Regions from separate parts of the Homo sapiens genome. Here all the other regions are linked to region 2. The links come from fine-mapping of genetic effects on gene expression. A gene starts in region 2. Each other region holds a variant in brackets. All regions are shown on one strand. Distances are from middle to middle.

Region 1 (8,184 bases), 780 kb after region 2:
AGATTAGACAAATAGAAAATACATAGCAAGATAGTAGTTTAAACCCAACCACCTCAATTATCACAATAATTGTAAATTGTATAAATATCCCAATGTAAAGAGAAATATTATCAAAATGGATTTTAAAAACATAACCCAAATATTTGCTACCTATGAGAAATTCATTTCACATATAAAGACACCAATAGGTTAAAAGTTAAAGGCTGAGAGAAAAAAAGAACATAATGTGCTAATATTAATCAAAAGTAAGCTGGGATAATTACATCAATATCAGACAAAGTTGATTTCAGAGCAAAGAATATTACCAGGGATGAAGTATTTCATTTCATAATGATAAAGAGATCAATTCATCAGGGGAGAAAACAATACTAAAAGATTATATGCCTAATAACAGCACTTCAAAATTAATGTAGTGAAACCAATAGAACTGCAAGAAAAAAAGAGTCAAATCCGTAATTACAGCTGAAGATTTCAACACCACCTCCTAATAGTTGATATCACAGGAAAACAATAAAGTATATAGGACACTTAAATTGCATTTAAACCAAGATGACCTAATTGACATTTAGAATGTCTAGTCAACAATAAGATATACATTCTGTTGTTTACATGAACATGTATTTATAGAAATCATATTATGAGCTATTAGAGTAGGCTCAATAAATTTTAAAGGATTTAAATCATACAAAGCATGTTCTCAAGCCACAATGGAACCAAATTAAAAATAAAACACATAAACTATGTAAGAAAACCTCTCTAAAGCAGGAGTTCCCAACCTGGTACCACGGCCTGTTAGGAACCAGGACACACAGCAAGAGTTGAACAGCAGGTAAGCAAGAAAAGCTTCATCTGTATTTACAGCAGCTCCCCATTGCTAGCATTACCACCTGAGTTCTACCTCCTGTCAGATCTGTGGTGGCATTAGATTATCATAAGAGCACGAACCCTATTGTGAACTGTGCAATATGAAGGATCTTAGTTGCACACACCTTACAAGAATCTAATTCCTAACGATCTATTGCTGTCTCTCATTACCCCCAGATGGGATTGTCTAGTTGCAGGAAAACAAGGTCAGGGCTCCCACTGATTCTACATTATGGTGAGTTACATAATTATTTCATTACATATTACAATGTAATAATAATATAAATAAAGTGCACAGTAAATGTGCTTGAATCATCCTAAAACTTACCATTCCCCAGTTCATGAAAAATTGTCTTCCATGAAACCAGTCCTTGGTATCAAAAAGGTTGGGGATTTCTGCTCTAAAGAAACTGTGCCAAAGAAGAAATCAAAAGGGAAGCTAGAGAAAGTATTTTAAACTACATGACAATAAAAAAAAAAAATCTCAAAATTTGTGAGATGCAGCTAAGTGGAGGTTAGAGGAAAATATGTAATAATAAATGATCTTGTTAGAAAATAAACATTTCAAATAAATGACCTCAGTTTCCACCTTAATTTGTCAAACTGAAAGAAGGAGAGCAAACTAAAGACATCATATGCAAAAGAAAATGAATAATAAAGATTAGAATGAAAACCAATGACATATATAGGAGAAAGGCAATGGAGAAAATAAATTAAATGGAAAGTAGTTTCTTAGGGGCCTGTTGTGGGGTGGGGGGAGGGGGGAGGGATAGCAATAGGAGATATACCTAATGTAAATGACAAGTTAATGGGTGTAGCACACCAACATGGCACATGTATACATATGTAACAAACCTGCACGTTGTGCACATGTACCCTAGAACTTAAAGTATAATAAAATATATATATATATATATAAAAGACAGAAAAAAAAATAAAATTGGTAACTCCTAGCCAGACTCACAAGAAAAAAAAGGAAGGAAAAATTGTTAATATCAGAGATATGAGAGGTGATATCACTACAGAATCTATAGAAATTAAAAAGATAAAAATTATGAGCAACTATACACCAATAAATTTGAAATATTAAATGAAATTAACTTCTTGAAAGACACAAATTCAAACTCACTCAAGAAAAAATACATTATTATAAAGACACACAACTTTTTTTTAATTGAATCCATACTTTAAAACCTTTAAGGTAATAAGGGGGGTGGGGCCAAGATGGCCTACCAGAAGTAGCAGTGATCAGAGGCTCCTATTGAAAAGAATCATAATTAGCGAGTGAATTCTGCACTGGCAACCAAGCTATCCAGGTTCTCTCATCAGAATTGACTAGGTGGCTGGCATGATCCACAGAGAGGAAGGAAGGGCAGTGTGGTATGGAAGATCCCACTTGTGAACCCACACCACCAGGGCCTAAGGTCCGAACCCCAGAGCCTCAAACATTCTCAACAGCCTCTCAACTAGAATCTGCTTTAGACTGCCAAGTTCCCAAGGGGAGGGGTGACCAGCACCACAGCTGTGGCTGCCTGCTGTCTAAGCCATTTGAACTCCTTGGAAAAGGGGCTGCATCCAGCACTGGGACTCATAACTGCCTAACATGATAAGTTCTGTGAGTGGGGGAAAGGTGGCAGCTATCTCTGTAGCTCCAAGCTGTGCTTTTCCCCTGCTGGAGCCAGGGAGGCTGTATGGCTTAGTCCAAAGAGGTGTTCCCCACAGCCCAACATACCAGCTGTGGCAGACTGTGGCCAGAGCACCTTTTCAGGCCTGACCCTGACCCATCCTTCCTCACTGGGTGGGGCCTCCCTGCGGGAACTGCAAAAACTCCAGCCAGAGGCTCAAGGACAAAACCCTGACCTCCCTGGGCCTGAGCCCTTAGCGGGAGGGGTGGCTGCATTCTCTTCAGACCAGCAAGCTTAGCCTTTTCCTCCTAGCAGTTCTAAGAAATCCAGGCAGCCTAGATGAGTGGGTTTCCCTCCAGTGAAGCCCACCCCCTCCACTAAGGACAGTCAAAGTGCTTTGTTAAACAGATCCTGTCCCCTATATAGGTTGTCAGACACCCTATACAGGAGCAATCCTACTGGTGTCAGGTTGGTCTCAGCAGTCCTGGTCAGAAATTACTGGTGTCAGCAACCCTACTGCCCCTCAAAGTCAGAGATCCCAGAAGAAAGAGCAGGCACCCATTTTTGCTGTTCTCCAGGCTCTTTGAGTGACATCCCCAAGTGTGGGAGTGAACCAAATGAATAGGGCCTGAAGTGAACCCCCAGCAAACTGCAGCAGCCCTACAGAAGAGGGACCTGACCATTGAAAGAAAAACAAACAAACAGAAAGCAACAACAACAACATCAACAAAAACAAAAAAGTCCCCATGAAAACCCCATCCAGGGGTCAGCAGCCTCAAAGATTGAAACTAGACAAACTCATGAATATGAGAATGAATCAAATGAAAAAATGCTGAAAACCCAAAAAGCCAGAGTGCCTCTTTTCCTCCAATGATTGCAATGCCTCTCCAGCAAGGGTGCTGATGGACGGAGGATAAGATGGAAGAACTGACAGAAGTAGGCTTCAGAAGATAGGTAATAAGAAACTCCACTGAGCTAAAGGAGCATGTTCTAATCCAATGCAAAGAAGCTAAGAACCTTTGTAAAAGGTTAGAGGAGCTGCTAACTAGAATAACCAGTGTAGAGAGAAACATAAATGACCTGATGGAGCTGAAAAACACAACACAAGAACTTTGTGAGGCATACATAAATATCAAAAGCTGAATTGACCAAGTGGTAGAAAAG[A/G]TATCAGTGTTTGGGCTGGGTGCAGTGGCTCACACCTGTAATCCTAGCATTTTGGGAGGTTGAGGCAGGTGGATTGCCTGAGCTCAGGAGTTTGAGACCAACCTGGGCAACATGGCAAAACCCTGTCTCTACTACAAATACAAAAATTAGCTGGGCATGGTGGCACATGCCTGTACTGCCAGGTACTTGGGAGGCTGAGGCAGTAGAGTCACTTGCACCCAAGAGGCAAAGGTTGCAGTGAGTCAAGATCATGCCACTGTGCTCCAGCCTAGCCAACAGAGCGAGACTCCGTCTCAAAAAAAAAAAAAAAAAAAAAAAAAAAAAAAAAAAAAAAAAAATCAGAGCTTGAAGACCACCTTGCTGAAATAAGGCATGCAGACAAGATTAGAGAAAAAAGAATGAAAAGGAATGAATAAATGAACTAAGGCTCCATATGGGACTATGTAAAAGTAGCAAACCTACGATTGACTGGAGTACCTGAAGGAGAAGGGGAGAATGGAAACAAGCTGGAAAACACACTTCAGGATATTATCCAGGTGCACTTCCCCAACCTAGCAAGACAGGCCAACATGTAAATTTGGTAAATACAGAGAACATCATTAAGATACTACATGAGAAAGACCAACCCCAAGACACGTAATTATCAGATCCTCCAAAGTCTAAATAAAGGAAAAATGTTAAGGGCAGCCAGAGAGAAAGGCCAGGTCACCTACAAAGGGAAGCCCATAAGACTAAAAGTGGACCTCTCAACAGAAACCCTACAAGCCAGATGAGATTGGGGGCCAATATTCAACATTCTTAAAGAAAAGAATGTTAAACCCAGAATTTCAAATCCAGCCAAACTCAGCCTCATAAGCAAAGGAGAAATAAAATCCTTTACAGACAAGCAGATGATTTCATCACCACCAGCCCTGCCTTGCAAGAGCTCTTGATGGAAGCACTAAATATGGAAAGGAAAAGTTGGTACCAGCCACTGCAAAAACACATCAAAATGCAAAGACCAATGACACTATGAAGAAACTGCACCAACTAGTGTGCAAAATAACCAGATATCATCATGAGGACAGGATCAAATTCGCACATAATAATATTAACCTTAAATGTAAATGGGCTAAGTGCCCCAATTAAAAGACACAGACTGGCAAACTGGATAAAGAGTCAAGACCCATTGGTGTGCTGTATTCAGGAGACCCATCTCATGTGCAAAGACACACATAGGCTCAAAATAAAGGGATGGAGGAAAATTTACCAAGCAATGGAAAGCAAAAAGAAGCAGGGGTTTCAATCCTAGTCTGTGATAAAACAGACTTTAAACCAACAAAGATCAAAAAAGACAAACAAGGTTGTTATATAATGGTAAAGGGAACAATTCAACAAGAAGAGCTATCATAAATATATATGCACCCAATACAGGAGCACTCAAATTCATAAAACAAGCTATTAGATACCTACAAAGAGACTTAGACTCCCAGACAATAATAGTTGGAGACTTTAACACCCTGATGTCAATATTAGACAGATCAATGAGACAGACAATTAATGAGGATATTTAGGACTTGAACTCTGCTCTGCACCAAGCAGACCTAATAGACATCTACAGAACTCTCCACCCCAAATCAACAGAATATACACTCTTCTCTGTGCCACATGGCACTTATTCTAAAATCAACCACATAAATGGAACTAAAACACTTCTCAGAAAATGCAAAAGAAATGAAATCACAACAAACAGTTTCTCAGATCATGGTGCAATCAAATTAGAACTCAGGATTAAGAAACTCACTCAAGACCACACAATTCCATGGAAATTGAACAACCTACTCCTGAATGACCCCTGGGTAAACAATGAAATTAGAGCAGAAATCAAGACGTTCTTTGAAACCAATGAGAACAAAGAGACAACGTACCAGAAGCTCTGGGACACAGCTAAAGCGGTGTTAAGAAGGAAATTTATAGCACTAAATGTCCACATCAGAAAGCTAGAAAGATCTCAAATCAAGACGCCAACATCACAATTAAATGACCTAAAGAGGCAAGAGCAAACTAGCACAAAAGCTAGCAGAAGACAAGAAATAACTAAGATCAGAGCAGAATTGAAGGAGATGGGAACACACATACAAAAAAAGCCCTCCAAAAAAAAAAATCAATGAATCCAGGAGCTGGTGTTTTGAAAAAATTAACAAAATAGATATACTGCTAGTTAGACTAATAAGGAAGAAAAGAAAGAAGAATCAAATACACACCAGTTAGAATGGCGATCATTAAAAAGTCAGGAAACAACAGGTGCTGGAGAGGATGTGGAGAAATTGGAACACTTTTACACTGTTGTTGGGACTGTAAACTAGTTCAACCATTGTGGAAGTCAGTGTGGTGATTCCTCAGGGATCTAGAACTAGAAATACCATTTGACCCAGCCATCCCATTACTGGGTATATACCCAAAGGATTATAAATCATGCTGCTATAAAGACACATGCACACGTATGTTTATAGTGGCACTATTCAAGTAGCAAAGACTTGGAACCAACCTAAATGTCCAACAACGATAGACTGGATTAAGAAAATGTGGCACATATACACCATGGAATACTATGCAGCCATAAAAAATGATGAGTTCATGTCCTTTGTAGGGACATGGATGAAACTGGAAACCATCATTCTCAGCAAACTAACGCAAGGACAAAAAACCAAACACCGCATGTTCTCACTCATAGGTGGGAATTGAACAATGAGAACACATGGACACAGGAAGGGGAACATCACACACTGGGGACTGTTGTGGGGTAGGGGAGGGGGAAGGGGTAGCATTAGGAGATATACCTAATGCTAAATGACGAGTTAATGGGTGCAGCACACCAACATGGCACATGTATACATATGTAACAAACCCGCACGTTGTGCACATGTACCCTAAAACTTAAAGTATAATAATAATAAAATTTAAAAAAAAAATTTTAAATGATGAACTCAAAAAAAAGAAGATATTGTTTACAATGTAGTATTTATTCAGAAGAGTCTGCAATACCTAAATGGATAGCATCTACTAATTTTCAAACCTGTGTATTCAGTACCCAGATTAAGAAATATAACAACCCCCATGACACAAGTTTACCTATGGAACAAACCTGCACTTGTACCCCTGAACTTAAAATACAAGTTAAAAAAAAGAAATTAAAAAAAAGAATCAAATAGACACAATAAAAAATGATAAAGGAGATCTCACCACTGACACTGCAGAAATACAAACTACATCACAGAATACTATAAACACCCCTACACAAATAAACTAGAAAATCTAGAAGAAATGGATAAATTCCAGGACGCATACACTCTCCCAAGACTAAACCAGGAAGTTGAGTCCCTGAATAGACCAATAACGAATTCTGAAATTGAGGCAGTAATTAATAGCCTACCAACCAAGAAAAGGCGAGGACCAGACGGATTCACAGCCAGAGGTACAAAGAGGAGCTGGTACCATTCCTTCTGAATCTATTCTAAACAATTGAAAAGGAGGGGCTCCTCCCTAACTCATTTTATGAAGCCAGCATCATCTTGATACCAAAAGCTGGCAGAGGCACAACAACAAAAAAGAAACTTTCAGGCCAATATCCCTGAAGAACATTGATGTGAACATCCTCAATAAAATATTGGCAAACCGAATCCAGCAGCACATCAAAAAGCTTATCCACCATGATCAAGTTGGCATCATCCCTGAGATGCAAGGCTGGTTCAACATATGCAAATCAATAAATGTAATCCATCACATAAACAGAACCAAAGACAAAAGTCACATGATTATCTCAATAGATGTAGAAAAGGCCTTTGATAAAATTCAACATCCCTTCGTGTTAAAAACTCTCAATAAACTAGGTATTGATGGAACATATCTCAAAATAATAAGAGCTATTTATGACAAACCCACAGCCAATATTATATTGAATGGGCAAAGCTGGAAGCATTCCCTTTGAAAACCTGCACAAGACAAGGATGGCCTCTCTCACCACTCCTATTCAACATAGTATTGGAAGTTCTGGCAAGGTCTGCACCCTCAGCCTCCTGGGCTCAAGTGATTTTCCTGCCTTCTCAGCACCCCCTACCCCCACCTCAACCCCAGCCTCCAGTAGCTGAGACTACAGGCATGCACCACCATGCCTCACTAATTTTTATTTTTTTAATAGAGATATTGATTTTTGCAGTGTTGCCCAGGCTGGTCTCAAACTCTTGAGCTCAAGCAATCCACCCACCTGCTTCACTCTCCTAAAGTGCTAGGGTTACCATTGTGAGCCACTGCGCTCCCGCCTCCATTCTCGCCACTTCTATTTAACACTGTACTGGAAGTGCTGGCCACTACAATTAGACAAGATAAAGAAATAAAACATATTCAAATTTAAGAGGAAAAATTAAAATGCATGTATTCACAGACAATTATAATGAAATGTGAATTTTTCTAAATACCAAGTTTATATACACTATAAAAAGAGATTTGTTTAAATACTACATGGTAAAAGACTATTTATGTAACAAACAGAAAA
Region 2 (8,184 bases):
TCATTTTAGCTTTACTTCTTAGGGTAATCAAAGATAAATGAGACAATAAGCCGTGTGAGGATTAATTAGATGAGCTCTGGAAAGTGCTGTCAGCCCTTTGGAAGAGGATGCCATTATAAAATGTATACAAGGTCTTATTATTTAAGAGAAAGAGTTGAATCACCAAAAATACACTGCGCAGTGGGGAAAACAAAACACTAACCAGGAAACCTCAACTAAGCATCCCAGTCAGCAGAAAGTGCCCACGCAGATGTCTCAAGTCCCTCCAGATTACCTCTTGTTTGTGAGTTGGGGAGGGATTTCAGAGCAGTGCCTCAAGGGAGTGTATCATTTTTCTGTGATGCTCTCCAGTGGCCAGCCTGTGTCTTGGGAAAGGGGATCAGGAGAAGGTGATGACACAGGGTTGTTCTTTGCCCTTTGGCCTTGTTCAGTAAACAACCTGTCAGGAGGCCAGAAAGGAGCACGTAGAAGATAATTTTGAGGGCCAAAAAGGGAAGATGCTCCCCATCTTTGAGACCAGCCCCATGCTGACAGAGCAGGAACCTTCCTCCTTCCCCAGCCCTTTTCTCCTCACCTCCTTTCTTGTGCCCACACTGCAGCACACATCACTCCATTCTGGGAGACAAAGCCAGCTCCATTTTTGGTGAAGAGGGGAAGTAAGAGTCAAGAATGCTCCTGTCTTCTCCATGGCTGCAGCCCAGCTGTCAAACACTTTGGCGCCAGCTGACCTCCAGAAGGGGAGACTATGGTGTGACATTTGCTTCCTTTATCTCAAATATTTCACAATATACATGCTCTGTGCCTTTTCAAATTATATCCTCCTCAAAGAAGCAAGGCATGCATCTTTTCCTAGAGTAGGCAGCAGCTCTGATATTGATAAGACAGGATCATTGTGGCAGCATGTCTCGGTCATGCCCTCAGTGCTGCAAAGCAACTTATTCTGGGTGAAGGGGGACTCCAGAGGGTCATGCCTTAAACAAATAACATACACACAACTGTGTGAGTCAGGAGGGAAAGCACACAAACTCCAGCATCACTTTGCTGTTGCCTGATGTCATCAGACTGCCCCCCGGGGGATTTGGTATACTTTAGTTGCTTGGTTAATACTGGCATTGCATGTATTTTAGCGAGCATGGTCAGAGAGAGTCACTTCAACATGCACATGTCTGGAGAAGGACAGAAGCAGAAATACTTGACTTATAATATACCTTTTATCCCTCTGATTGGTCTATGCTGACATAACAATGTCCCTGCTGAATAAGGCCTAGATTACCCAACTATAAGCTTGACCTTTTATAATTGTTATCCTTTTAACAAAACATTTGTTTCTGCTCATAGCACCCTGCTCCTAGGGCTGCAAAGAGCACACACACAATTCTTTACAGAGGGGTCTGTTCAATCACATTACAGTGCATTAGCTTGAACATTGGTTAACATTTGGCTTAGGTCTATATACCCTGGATAAATATGTACCATGCAGAGGGACTGCTTGGTGAGGAGAAGAGTCCTCTGGGCTGGAACAACAGCTCACAAGTTCGTGTTCCTACTAGGCAGGAACACTCCAGGCATCCGTGATTTGGACAGGGTGCTGGACATGCTTGGTTCTTCTGTGGGCAGCCTGTTTCCTGCATACAGCTGTGAGCACAAGCACACATACATACACACACCACAGGCAGCATTCGACAGTGTACCCAGATGATCACAAAAACAGAGACAGAGATCTGCTAGATGATACCAGCACATCCCACCTTTCAGCACAGCAATGTTCTTCCCTAGTGTCTCCAGTGCTCTGCCAGGCTCAAGTCAATCAATGGGGCTTCTGCCACCACCCTGGGGAGACTATTTGCAACCTACAGGGTTCACTGTTTGGAATTTTATTTTCCTGACTGCATGTGCATGGGAAACATGCCATAGGGCTCTATGAGCACGATAATATAGATATCGTGCATTGTAACCTCAGCTCTTTGGGCTCCTTCCCAAACATAATGAACCTCCCAGCGTCAGCTGGGCAGGCAAAAGTCCTCGTCATCTTCTGCAATTATGCAGCCCTATTGAATTTTCTGAAGCTAATAGGAGTTGCACTAACTTTGAGGACTTAAACCAGGCAAAAGCAATATAGGTCAGGCAGGGAGCCCAAACCCTCTGACAGCCATGCAACACCAGGAGGCAATACCAGAGCAATCTCTAGCTCAACCCCAAAGTCCATTGCTCAACTCCACAAGACAGAAACTAGGAGAGGTGGCATCATTCCCTCTGCCTGCCACTGCCAGGCACCAGGGCAAGAGGGTTGTATGAGAGCAAAATGGTCCCTTTACCAACGGACACACCAAAAAGGACAATGAAAAGGGGAGAAAAATCACCGAAACCCTGCACTGTTACCTTGAATCCTTGCAAGAGCCCTCCTTGCTGTATCAGCTGCTCCCCAAACCTTCAACGACTGGGAGGAGACTCCTAAAAGATTCCAGGTTTTTGTGCAACATCTCCAGTGGCAGCTTTCCAAAGTTTTTACTTCATGATTTCTTGTGGTTCTTTCTCATTTGGGGAAACGCGAATGCCTCCCCCTCAGCGTGTGAGAGGGAGCGGATGTCTCTTTTCAAATTCTCTTGCTCCCCGCTTTACTGTCGGTGCCGCCGCCGCCGCCACCGCCACCGCCGCCAACGTTAGACCACTTGCCTGCTGCCTTCCCGCTGAGCAGCCAGGATCCCGGTCTCCCAGAGCATCTTTGAAGTGGGGCTTCGGCACTGGGCCGGGGCGCACGCGGGGTGGGAGAGGTAAGGGAAGTGCAAGACCCAACTGGGGGAGTCCCCTGTCCCTCCGCCGAGGAGAAACCCAAGATTTTGCCTTCTTTCCAACTCTAAAGAGACTCACCCACCCGCTCTCTCACCCGAAATCACTGCCTTGCACATGGGCAGAGACAGGTCTTCCGGCTTCACCGCTCCCTCGGCTGCCTGCAGACCTGCCACTGACCTCGGAGCGCACGGCAGGTGCACATCCCCGGGCAAGTCCTAATGGGATCCTCCGAGCTCAGCGTAAGCGCTGCCAGCGCAGCGGCGAGCAGCTTGCGAGGCAGGCGGATTGCATCCCAGAGCTGCAGCCCGGCGCGTCCCCGCTCCGACTCCGCGCTCCGTACCTAAGCAGTGTCACCTGCAGACTCAGACACCAGATGAGTGTCTTAAGATAACAATGCTGCCCTGCCTGCCTCTCTCTTTCTTTCTTATGCATGTAGGTTGGCAGCCAATGGGACACAGCGCCACACTCCCCACAGGTGCCCATTGGCTGGGCGGCTTGGCAGGGGGCGGGCTCTGAGCCTCACCGCTCTCTCCTTTGGTGAGCTGGCAGGCTGGGGTACCAGCTCTGTTAACCCTCCCAGCGTTGCAGTGGGGACTTTTTGGTGTGTATAAGGAAGCCTTGGGTACATTCACGGGTGGGGCGTTGGACACTCTTAAAAAGGCTGGGGAACAAGAAGTAGCTGGGGAGCTAATTACATTTTCTTCTAATCTTCCTGAGTTACAATAATCATTTATCCCAGCCCATTTTGTTTGCTTGCTTAACTAGAACTCCCAGAGATTGGGACCCATCTGAGCCATTTTCCATCTAATTTGAGGTTTCATTTGGTTGTTTTGTGCATTTTTTAGCCTCTTGGATTACTTAATTAGAAATGAGCCCCCAAGTGAGAAATAGTACACACACACACACACACACACACACACACACACACCCCAGAGACCCAAGAGGAGAGAGAGGCAAAAGAGAGCAAGAACCCAGTAAGATGGCTAGAGAGTGAAACAGATTTAGAGGCCAGGACAGCTAAATCAGGAAACATTCTGCCCCCACACCAGGACTGTAAGGACAAAGGCAAAGAGGAGAACTTCAGGTTTCTGGGGAGAGATTAAGTTTCAAAAATGTCCCTCCAAAAAAGGGAATTGTTTTGCCTGTGGTGTTTTCCCTCTGTGTGTCTCCTTTCACTTCTGTGTGTGTCAGGAAGAGGGACTGTGCATCTCCGTTTAGTTTTTAAAGGAAGACTAGAGAAATCAGAACAGGACCAGCCTTGTTTCTGTGAAGCAGGTGCTGTTGCTGGGCCTGTGAATTGAAAGAGAGGGAGGGAGGAAAAAAGGGAGGGAGGTGGAGGGAAAAGGGAGGAAAGGAGAAGGGAAGAAAATATTAACTTTACATTGAAGTGTGAAGTATATATTTTTGATATCCTAATGAGGGTACAAAACTGAAACATGTCCCGCTAACTAGCATACTAAACTAGATTTTGGCAGGAGCATAGGAAAAAGAGTAATAGTTGAAGAAAAATCCAATTCAAGGGAAGAGCTGGGGGCTGGAGCTGGGGAAGGAACTTGGGAGATCCATGCTAAGTCATGTGGTGGGGGAAGTATGAAGAAGATAAATATATAGTCAGAAAGCGAGAGGAGTCTTTCAATTTAGTTTCCTTAAATGGAGAGCAACATCGGAGATTATTTTGTAAAGAACTAGAAAAAAAAAGTATGTAGAGATTTAATGAATGTGTAAGAAGTACACATGGAGATTAGCTAAACTGCATCAAGTAGCCGTAAGTTCTGAATGAATAAAGAAAAATTAGAAATTTTCTTCATTCATCCCCTCAGACTCACACATCTATCACTTTCACCTATATTTTCTTCTCTGTATCTTATACAACGTTGAACTTCCTTCTGCATACTGCAAGTATCTGTTTGCCTAAGCTACAAAACATGTCAGAGAATGGTGGTCCCACAGGGTCCTGAGCTCTCTTTCTAGAATAAAATAACCAAGAGAACCACTGAGAGCCTAAATCTATTGCTACCCAACTGCTGAGTTATTTACTTTTGTGATTTCTAGAGGCAGAGACCCACTGAACTTGTCCCAAGTGACAACATACTGAAATGTTAAAATAGCATAAGGGAGTGGGTAAATAGAGGGAGAGGTTGAACAAAGGATTGCTAATTTCAATGGAAAGAAAGTTAAAATTTCCAAAATCTGTAAAAGAGAGAGGAAAGAGGTGATGGCAGATAAGAAGACAACTTGAAAAAGAAAACTTGCTTGTACTTTCTTCTCCTATAAAGTCTGAAGCCGTGTAAAAAATTTTAAAGAGGCAGAATATACATTAAGAATTGCCACAAGTGTATAGTTTAATTCTTGCCTATATATGCATCAATGTAACCATTACTCACTTTATTTCCAGCACTGCAGGAAGCATGTTCGTGAACGTTCTCAGTCAAAACCCTCCACTCCCCAGAGATAATTATATTCTGACTTCCATCACCAAAGATTAATGTTACTTGCTCTTGAACTTTGTAAATATAGGATCTTAGAGTATACACTCTTTTGTGTCTTGATCCTTTCACTCATCATTTTGTCTCTGAGATTTATCCATGTAGTTGTATGTTTTATTGCGGTGCACCACTCTATTACATGACTACATGGCATTTATTCATTCTGTTCTTGATAGATATTTGGGATGTTTCTGGGGTTTTTTGGCTATTATAAGTAAACTTGTTATAAATGTTTTTGTGCTTGTCTTTTGGTGGATGTATGCAATCATTTCCTCTGGGAAAACACCAAGGACTATACATTACTTAATTTGCTTTGACTACTACACTGGAGAAAATCTCATGAAGATGACTCTGAAGCCTATTATCTTGCCAAAATAATTGAATAAGGTGATAGTGGCAAAGGCTATCGCTACTGAGTGCCAACTAAATGCCTAAAATGTGTCACATTGTTTACATACATAATCTCATTTCCTCCTCACAACCACCCCCAAAACTATGTATTATTCCTGTTTTGCAAATAAGAATATTGAATTTAAGACTTTGTATTAGGAAATAGCTCTTGCTTTCCTGAGTGTATGTGTATGTATATGTGTAGATGTTGGGGGAGATGTAAATAAATGCCCAGGGAATGGAGCTAAAAGAAGGGAAGTGATGGAAGTTCTCACTGCATAGGTGCAGCTGCAGATTAGCTTGGAGAGATGGGACAATCTGAAGAATAAAGAGTGTTGCACTTCAGGTGGACAGAATGTTATGGGAGGAGTGAAAATAGGAAATAGATTTTAATTTGATTGAGAGATGTGTGTGTCTGTGTGCACATGTGTGGTGGGAGGATAGAGATATAGTGCAGTGAGCAAACTATCTAAAAAACAGTGTGAGATTAGAAGAGTTTTAAAATTTCTAAACCATGGGTTTTCAGCTTTATCATGTAGAAAAAGAAAAACTAGAATGACATAATGAAAGTTAGATTTCATGAAGATCAACCTGGTAGTTGTGTACAGAATGCGTTGCTAGGAGGAAAAGGAATCAAAATCTATTTTAATAGTCAAGGAAAGAGGCCATTGGTGCTTAAATACAGGAAGGTGTATCTCAGGAGAAAAGTGAAGATTGGAGATAACAGCGCTTGCTGTTTTACAGTGTTTTAAAGAATAGAAATTTTCTGAGAATGAATAAATGCCATGTAGTCATGTAATGGACTAGTACACAGCAATACAATATTGAACTACATGGATAAATCTCACAGACATAATGATGAGTGAAAATATTAAGACACAAAAAAGCATATACTCTAAGATTCTATATTTATAAAATTCAAGAGCAAGTAACATTACTCTTTGGTGATGAAAGTCAGAAACATTTTCTGTGACCAGCAGGGGTGAGCGGAGATGATTGGCCCCTTTTGTTGATGGGGAACTAAAGACAAGAATGGTCCAAGCTTATCTCCAAATAAGAATATTATGAAGTTAAGTCTTGAATCCAGTTCTATTATTTCACTATATCATTATGCCTCTACACAAAGGTGATGATTGAGATGCATAACATTTTCCCCCATCTCCTCTAAATGTAAAACATCATGCATTAGAGATGGCCTGGTTTCCATGTACTTCAACCTTTACCCACATCTCTAGGTATTTAATTCCCTAAGAAAGGGCCATGTGACATTATTTCCATTTTTACAGGAATCAAGTACTCTGGAATAATATATTCTCTTTTAAAAAATTCTACTGTTTCTTTTGTTTGGTTTTGTTTAGAGAGGTCTAGAAAGACTTGAGATACCAACTACCAACTATGCCCAACTCAATATACATTTTAAGAAGACTAGATATTGACTTATTGGAAAATCAACCCTAAATGGTTTACTTGGGCTTTCTAACATGACTCAAGAATCTTCAGAAAATTAGAAAGAAAGATTTCAAAGTGACAGTAGATTATATGCTACTCAAAAGCAGGAGTAGTATTTTTCTGGCTGTGCTTAGCCTAATGCTTATGATACAGTAGGTACACAAACATTTGCTGAATTAATTACTGTGGTCCATAAAGCCCAGTGATTATCCATGGGTGCACCCTAGTGTACCATAACCATATAGTGGAAAGAGCAGTGGGCAAAGAAATCTTGTTCATGGTCTTAGCTCCATAGAAGATAGATCACTCTTTAATGGGTCTCAATTTCCTTATCTGTTAAGTGAGAGATTGGATGAATACATGATCAGGTACTTACATGCCATTTCTCACATTCTAGTATCAAGGGTGTGTTCCTGACATCCACTATAATTATTCAATGGCAAATAACCTTGCATAAGTAAGTTTAATACTAGATTTTTGTTTATGCTAGGGATAACAGAATGAAAGAGATATCATGGGGTTTTTGTCTCACTCAGTATCTCTTAGGGGAGCAATGACGATCAGGATGAGTTTTCAAAAGTCGTTAGCTGGTACATCTTTTTTACAGTAGTTTACAGTAGTTTGCAATGCTGCATGGTAAGATAACTTGGGGTTAATTCCCAGATAAGTTACATATAAAAACTCAACTAATAAAGTGTCTTTGTTCTTCTTTTCTTTGCATATGTGGTAAATGATCTTTCACTACTTAAACATTACCTTAAATATGGCTTATTTTCTCTATTCAATTAGATAAACTTTGTAAAATATATGGCAAAAGCTTTTTTGTCTTTTAAAGAACATATTTTCACATATGCCAATAAACTGACACCAGGTAGAATGAAAATGTAATTGTTTCTTAAGTAGGGGTCCTCTTTTAGAACAGTAGTGCATTAAATTTCTAGAGTGAGAACTACAAATAACACAGTCTTCACAGCACCTAGTATTGAAGTTAGCATTGACCCAATAACAATGGAGGGACACACTTTTGAAATAAGTTATTGGTTATCATGTGAGAGAAAGTTCAGTTAAA
Region 3 (8,184 bases), 50 kb before region 2:
GAGCAGTGACATTTCATAAAGTGATTGGGCAGTGACATTAAATAAGTTTTCAAGCCATATAAGTGGTTAATTGGCCAACTCTGTTGAGGAGATGTTTTCTTGAATAAATCTGAGGGTGTCAGTTGTTAAAAAAAAAATCACAGAAATTGTTATTTGTTCTTGTCATCCGCAATATCTTGATGCAAAACCTCCTGTTTTTACAAGAAAGGGAGGGTAGATAGGAGAGATGACAGGACATTCTTAAGAGCAAGGGTGGATGTGGGGGTGCTATCAGCTCAGATCTGTGGCTTTTATTCTTCCCTCTTGTTGCAATAAGCTGTCAACTTCAACAGAGACTAACCATGGTGCTTTTGCCTTGACGATGTGCTCCTGGTTTCATTTTGTAGAGCCTCATCAGGTCCCATAATTCTTCCATTTGAACCTGAGCAGGGGTGACACATTTTGTCACTGCCCTCCCCAGGCTCCAGGATTCGACCTTCAGTGTCACCCTCAGGACTGGCATGGAACTGGCAAGCAATAGGTGATGCATTTCCCCACTGCTGGTCAGGAATGACTTAAAATCAGTGAGGGTATAGATATCCTCACTGTATAGAATCAGGTTAATAATATTAATAATTATGCAATGGTAAGAGCTAATCATAATTACTGTTTACTAAATATTCTTACATTAATTTAAGAACTTTAACAGAGGAGGCCAAGAGAGCCAAAGAGACCCTCTGGAGATCACTCCACAATAAAACAGAAGTGAAACTCGCATATTCTGACTCTGAGACCTATAACTCAGCTCTCCTTAACCTCACTTGCCTCTGTTCATCAAACAGTCAATCAGTTATTAAGTAATGTCTATGCACAAGGACTGTCCCAAGGGATGGGAGTAAATCTCATGAACAAGACGGACCCAGCCTTTGCTTTCATAGGGCAGGAACAAAACATAGGACTTAGGATCCTGTAATGAGCTTAAAAGGTACACAGACACAAAAACACACAGCACTCACACACATGTACAGCTTTAGTGACATTAGACCTAGTAGGATCCCTCCTCTGAGGCCCCAAATTTATAGGTCTCTCTGTGTGATAACCAGCCCTTCACTTAACAAGGGCAGATTCATCTGTCAGTTGCTGAGGCTTCATACTTGCCTGCCGGGTGTCCTTGGTGCTTTCCTTGGTGAGACAAACTAACTGACAGGCTTGCCCAGAGCCCTGAGCGATAAAGCCAGGGGCCGAATGTGCAGACCAGGGAGACCCTTCTACTCCGGAGCCTCCCTTCCAGTCAGGGGGATCACTAGCAAATAGAAAGATGGCACTGCTGATCAAATAGTACTTCTAAATAAAAAGTCGCTCATCCCAAAGCCTTTACAACTTCATCTCCTTGCAGATCAACCTTCCTCAAAACCATTTCCATCCTCCTCCATCATTAAGAAACCCCAGCCACTCCTTGCGGCCCTGAGAACCAATCTGCCTTCCACTTCCAGTCACTGAGCTCCCCTGATCGGCTGTTCCAAAGTGGAGTGGTTTTGAGAACAGACTGCAGAACCTGGCTGCCTGCCTTCCTTGGTTGGTTCCAACACTTTTGCCTCAGGTTCCTCATCTGTTTTTTTGTTTGTTTTTTTCTTTTTCTTTTTTTTTTTTTAAGATAACAATAATAGTGCTACTCCATAGGATTGTGAGGATTAAAAGAGTTAATATTTGTAAAGCCTTTAAAAGGTGTCTGGCCTGACCGGCCACAGTGGCTCACGCCTGTAATCCCAGCACCTTGGGAGGTTGAGGTGGGTGGATCACCTGAGGCCAGGAGTTTGAGACCAGCCTGGCCAACCTGGTGAAACCCTGTCTCTTCTAAAAATATAAAAATTAGCTGGGCATGATGGCAGGTGCCTGTAATCCTAGCCACTCGGGAGGCTGAGGCAGGAGGATCACTTGAACCTGAGAGGTGGAGGTTGCAGTGAGCCCAGATCGTGCCATTGCACTCCAGCCTGGGCAATAGAGTGAGACGCCATCTCGAAAAGAAAAGAAAAAGAAAAAAAGGTGTCTGGCCCATGGTGAGTGCTGTGTGTTCACCATTATTTTTTCCATTGCTCCAACAGGGGTTATTAGCACTAAAAAGAGTCCAAAAACAGTTCATAGACTCATCCAATCTTAGTTTTTGTTTGTTTGTTTTGTTGTTGTTTACAGGTGAGAAAACTGAAGCTTAAAAAGGTAAGATTTCTGTTAAAAGGCGTTTCCTCATTTTAGCCTTTTAGAGGTTTCTCCAGGTCACTCTGAATAACCTCACCAGTCCCCCATCCCTAGTCCTCTGCAGCTGATGACTGTAGTGATGGGTTCAACCCAGGGCCCTTTCACCTTCATCCTGTGGTCACTTGATTCCCCAGTTGTCTGGCTATGAGCCCTGCCATTGTACTCACTCCTGCCTTTCCTCTCTGTGAGTCTACTGTGGTCTCTCACATCTTTTAGCCTCATTTTCTCCAAGAAGCCTTTCAAAGCTCTGTGCATTGATTATGCGGTTGCTTTGGCTTCCTACAGCCTCTGTTCCCTGGTTAATTTCCACCTGATCGTGTCCTGGAACTGGGGAGAAGGGATGGGATCCTGGAGATTACCTGACCCAGTGGTTCTCAGCAGCCTGGAGCACATGTGGTAGTGTGTGTATGTGGGGAAGGTAGGGAGTGGAATGGAAATAGGGAAGGGAGGAAAGAGGGAAATAACTGAGATATGGGGCTGGGGTATATTTTTATAATTTTGAATATTTTTTAAAAACCTCCCAGGAGATTTTGATGCAACATTCTGATGGGATCCAGTGATAAAATTCATGTCACATTGTATCATAAGTGAGAAAACTTTCAGTCACAGAAGTGCAATACGTTATTTAAAGACCCACCACTGGTTTGGGGAAAAGTGAGGACTTGAACTTGGGTCTCTTAACACTAAGCCTAGAGCTTGTCTGTCTCCGTTTTATGTGTGTCAATGGTAAAATTTTCAAAATTCAAAACCCATGAGTCCCAGAGTTGCCATTATAATCACCTCTAATTATGTTTACATATTAGTTACTGTGTACCAAACATCAATCTAAACACTTTCCATGCGTTATTTACTATGCACAAACCCCTGTAAGGTTGATGCTGTTATTATGCCCATTGTACAGAGAAGAAAACTCAGGAACAGAGAAGCCAATAATGTTCTCCCAAGGGGAGTCCTTAATACTATTTACATGACCTATAAATCTAACAGCTACAGACTTGAATAAGATAGCTGTATTCACATGAGGTTATCCTAGATTCCTCTGGGTCATTTTCATTTTAAAAATTGCAAGATTGAAGAAAAGTCTAAAATCTTAAAGTACACAAGCAGGATTCACCTACAATCACTTTTCCAGCTTAGATAAGCATGCTGCTTTTTTGGAAGCTGTGTGGCTCCTGTTTAGATGGCCTGTCAGCATGGCCTCATAAGAACCCAGTGGTATTTCACCTGTGCTGTCTCAAAAACCACAGGTTAGGCGTACTCCTCCACCATGGGCCAATCCACAACTCCTGGTTTCTTGCATGCCCTTGAGTTACAGTGCTCTTCCCTCATATC[C/A]CCAAACCCAACTGAGCCTGTGCCCAGATTCCTCATCCCCTTCCTTTCTGCCCAGTCTCCGCATGTCCATCTAAGGTGTAAGAGGCTTGTACCCTGCATTAGGCCGTTATTGCATTGCTACAAAGAAACACCCAAGACTGGGTAATTGATTAAAGAAAAGGGTTTGATTGGCTCATGGTTCCAGAGGCTTTAGAGGAAGTGTGGTGCTCCCATCTGCTCTACTTCTAGAGAGGCCTCAGAAAACTTATAATCATGGCAGAAGGTGAAGGGGGTACAGGCACATCACATGGCAAAAGCAGGAGCAAGAGAGAGAGAGAGAGGTGGGGGAGGTACTGCACACTTTGAAACCACAGATAGGCGTGAACTCAGAGTGAGAGCTCACTTATCACCAAAGGAATGACCCAAGCCATTCATGAGGGATCTGCCCCTATGATCCAAATACCTCCCACCACACCCTACCTACAATGGGGATTTCAACATGAGATTTGGGTGGGAACAAATATCCAAATTACACCACACCCTTTTTGGCTTCTGTGCCTCCTGCTCTCCACTCCCCCATTTCCTGCTGTAGATAGATAGGCCCCCAGGAATTTCCTGCCCTTTTACCTGCTTCTGGACTGCACCCTCTCTTAGAGTTCCTCTTTATATATTCTAGCCATTGGACCTCCTGTTACCAAGATTGCCTGAATCAAACCATTTGGCCCTGCCCCTGGGCATGGCCTGCCCATCTCCCTGGATCTAGCTACTGAAGCTGGCTTAGTCATCTACTTCAATCCCTTGTTGACAGCTGCTTTCGTACTCCAGAGAGAGACCCTTCTCTGTCCCTGCCTCCTCCCAGCAGACTGGCTTCTGTTGCTTAAGCCCCAGCTCACTTCCCAGCTGAGTCTCTGTATATACATAGGGTGGTTTAAGGCCCGGGAAGCCAAAATAAACCCAAGCCAATCACAGAGAAATTGCTCATAACTATGTAGGCTGAAAAATTGAGGTGGGGCTGATAAGCAACTCTCCATTATGACCTGCAGCCCTCAATGTTACTCTTGCTCTTGGCTTTCTGCCAGGCCTGTCATTGAATCTGAACTTTTAGCCCAAGCTCTGCCCTATTTGGACCTTGGCACAAACCAGAATGTAAAATGATAATGCCCTGAGCTGTGCTAAACAGCACAGAGCTCCTGAGATGTTACAGATGCAGCTGTGACCAGCAATCACATTGTTTCCAGGATTGTGTTTGTAAATATATGAGTTGCCTGACAGCTTGTGGAATTAAATATAGATGCTACATCACAAACTCTAGCTAAAATAAACTATATGCCGCTCAATGAATGTCAATAAGTACACAGAGAAAGAATCATTGTACCTTTTTGTAGCATAGTCCAAGACACCCACCACTAAGTGCTTTGTTTGTTTGATAAAGGGCTCTCTCTTTAGGCCCCCATAGGCTTTTGACTGGTATTAGTGGAAAGCTAGGGGGATAGCAGAAGTAAGGAGACAACGGGGTGCAATCAATAAAGCTGCTGCATTGAGGAAATGATGTGTGGTGGCAGGAGCTAGCTTGGAAGTTCCACAAGTAGACTGGAATATCATAATTAACCTTTTGGAATTGCTGACCACAAAGCATCATTTCTAAAAGTATGGTCCAAGGCTCACTGGCAGTTTGCAAGGGACTACTGATGGGGAGCAAGCTGTTCTATCACTGCAAGCTCTCTCTTCAGTTATTAAGCCAAATAACTCTCCTTCCTTTAGATTGATTTTTACAGACAACCAAAGCTTATATATTAGCAATCTATTTAATAATAGATTAGATAGTGGCAAGAATAGAATAGATAATGGCAAGTTGAAGTGACATCAGCAAGATGGTGGAAGAAGGGGTCCCAGGCTTCACTCCTCCCAGAGAAACATCAACTATCCAGTCAAAAACACCTTGGTGAAAATGTGGGAATAAGCCTGAGTCACCTGTGTATTCCATGGAACTGAATCAAACTCCACATGGAAGGGGTAAGAGAAATGGTTTTGCTTTGACCACGTTGCCCTTCCTCTCTCCCCTAAGTCAGCACAGTGCCACACAGAGGAAATTCCCTAGGGCCCATGGTTTCTACAGCGGGAAAGCAAATATCCAACTTTCCCAGCATTTTGAGGTGCTTCCCAGGCAACTCACCCCATTCTCACCTCATTGGAAATGGGGAATGGAGGAGAAAACCACATGACTAGACTATCTGGGGTCAGGTAAAAACAAAGTCAGGAGGTGGAGCCCACAGAGAACAGTAAAATAAATTGTCAAGTGAAACATATTAAAAAATTATGCAAATTTAGACATCACAGATTTTGGTAAAAGCTCAGTGCACCTGCCACTAGTCGTGCTCAATCAGAGGTATCTGTGGGTGTGTAGCTCACCCACAGAGCTGAGCTGGTCACTCCCAGAAGAGGTGGGAAGGGTTACATGGCTTGAGTCTCTAGATGGCCAGCCTCAGACCCTACCCTAGGGTCCTGCCTAGGTAAGAGAAGACCCCCTGCAGCAAATTTCCACAACAAGCAGGCACTAGATCTGCTACAGTCAGGAGCTTAATCTACACTCCCTGTAGCCTTAAAGCTTACCCCTAGACTCTGCCCAAGGAGACTGCTGATCACTGTAGCAAATACTGACAAAAAGCAGGCACTAGTTCTGCCACACCTGGGAGTTTAATCAGTTCTTCTCTTGGCCTCAAAGCCCATCCCCACACCTCACCCATGGAGGAAGGCAAATCTCAGTCATGCATTTCTACTGACCATAGCAGTTAGTCCATTCATCCCAACCTACTTAACTTTGGGGCCTCTTCTGCAACCTTGGTCAACTCCTGAACTCAAATAGCAGTACCTGGCCAGGGAATTACACCCTGTGGCCCTGCCAGACAAGATGTGATTGCAGCATCCATATGGCAGCTCAGCCTAGTAGTAGAGCTCAGCCAGTGATCTTGCCAAACAGCAAAGCCTAGTCAGCTGCCCCACACAAATTCCAGGTAAAAGCAGTAGCCCAGCCATCTAGAGAACTTAAAAGCAAGCCTGCCTTTCCAGGATCATTACTCATCCAGAATGACCCATCCAGAATCATAGGGGTAGATTAACTAGTGAATTTCTATCCCTGCCAAAAAAACAAACTTGTAAAAGCCAGAAAAGTTGTCTGTCTCCACAAATGCATAAACACCGATACAAGGATACAAGGATTATAAAGACTCATAACACCTCCAAAAGAAAGTGACAAAGCTCTAACAATAGACTCTTAGGACAAAGATATCGATAAAAGGACAGAAAAAAAAATTCAGAATAATCCTCTTAAAAATGTTTAGTAAACTTCAAGAAGATACAGATTAAACATTAAATAAAATCTCGAAGATAATACACAAACAGGAGAAGTTTGACAAAGAAATAGAAACTTTTTTTTTAAATGGAGATTTTTAAAATGAAGATTACAGTGACTGAACTGAAAAATGCAATAGAAAGCTTCAACAGCTGACTTTATCAAGCTGAGAAATCAGTAAACATGAAGACAGAAAATTTGAAATTACCCAATCAGAGGAGTAAATAATAATAATAAAGAATGAAGAACATCTATGGGAATAATGGGACATCATCAAACAAGAAACCTAACCTATGCATCATAGGCATTCCAGGAGGAAAGAAAGAAAGAAAGAAAAAGGCCATAAAACATATTTAAAGAAATAATGGATGAAAACGTCTCTAATCAAGAAAAGAAGCCAACACCTAGGTATACAAAATGTGGAGGTCAGCAATAAAACTCTAACCAAAAAAGAATTCACCAAGACATTTAATAATCAAATTATCAAAAATTAAATACAAAGAACAAATTCTGAGAGCAGCAAGAGATAAGAAATACATCACATACAAAGGAGTCCCAATAAAACTATCAGCAAACTTCTCAGCAGAAACACCGCGGGCCAGGAGAGAATTGGATGATATATTCAAAGTGGTGAAGTGAAAAAAAAAAAAAAAAACTACCAACCAAGAATACTTCACTCAGAAAATCTGTCTTTCAGAAATGAGGGAGAAATAAAAACTTTCCCAGACAAACAAAAGTTAAATAAGTTTATCATCACTAGGCCTGCTTGCAGGAATTGCAAAAGAGAGTTCTTTTAACTGAAACTAAAAGATGCTAATTATTAACATAAAATTTATGAAAGTACAAAACCTAATAGTATAAGTTTTATGTAGCAAAATGTGGAATAGCCTAGGACTGTGATAGTAGTATGCAAAGTAATTTTATCCCTAGTACAAGCATTAAAGGATGAAATTGTTAATAACAACAGTTACTGAAATAAATTGTCAAGTAAAACATATTTAAAAAAGATACAATTCAGACATCAAAAACATAAAATACTGGAATGGGGGAGAACTGGAGAGTTATTGTATGCAATCAAAGCTAAACTGTTAGCCTCAAATAAACTATTATAAGTGTAACATGTTCTATGTAAGCCTCATGGCAACCAAAAATCAAAAATCTATAGGAGATGCACAAAACAAAAGAAAACAAAATACATACCCTACGGAAAACCATCAAACTACAAAGACAGAAATGGAGGAAGAAAGAAAATATCCACAAAACAACCAGAAAACAATTAACAAAATGGCAAT

Alleles and levels. Alleles are on the strand shown, and positions count from the first base shown. SD is a standard deviation of normalised expression in the study named.
In carriers of allele A in region 1, the expression in gastroesophageal junction of the gene that starts at base 3,154 in region 2 tends to be lower than with G alone (large effect, 1.0 SD a copy in GTEx).
In carriers of allele A in region 3, the expression in esophagus muscle of the gene that starts at base 3,154 in region 2 tends to be lower than with C alone (small effect, 0.29 SD a copy in GTEx).

What was found.
Region 1: its variant is fine-mapped to the expression of BRINP2 in gastroesophageal junction (GTEx, PIP 0.96).
Region 3: its variant is fine-mapped to the expression of BRINP2 in esophagus muscle (GTEx, PIP 0.94).

Annotation. Positions count from the first base shown.
Region 1 is chr1:176,386,290-176,394,473 of GRCh38, reverse strand. No RefSeq gene overlaps it. Among named protein-coding and RNA genes, the nearest start is that of PAPPA2, 73 kb to the left of the region's middle. The variant A/G (reference allele first, on the strand shown) is at 3,654.
Region 2 is chr1:177,165,928-177,174,111 of GRCh38, reverse strand. BRINP2 (BMP/retinoic acid inducible neural specific 2) reads right to left here and starts at 3,154. Exons shown (of 8, transcript NM_021165.4): 1 at 2,380-3,154. RefSeq lists enhancers at 2,338-2,926, 2,927-3,516.
Region 3 is chr1:177,216,143-177,224,326 of GRCh38, reverse strand. The region is part of intron 1 of BRINP2 (BMP/retinoic acid inducible neural specific 2); the gene reads right to left. Among named protein-coding and RNA genes, the nearest start is that of BRINP2, 49 kb to the right of the region's middle. The variant C/A (reference allele first, on the strand shown) is at 3,565.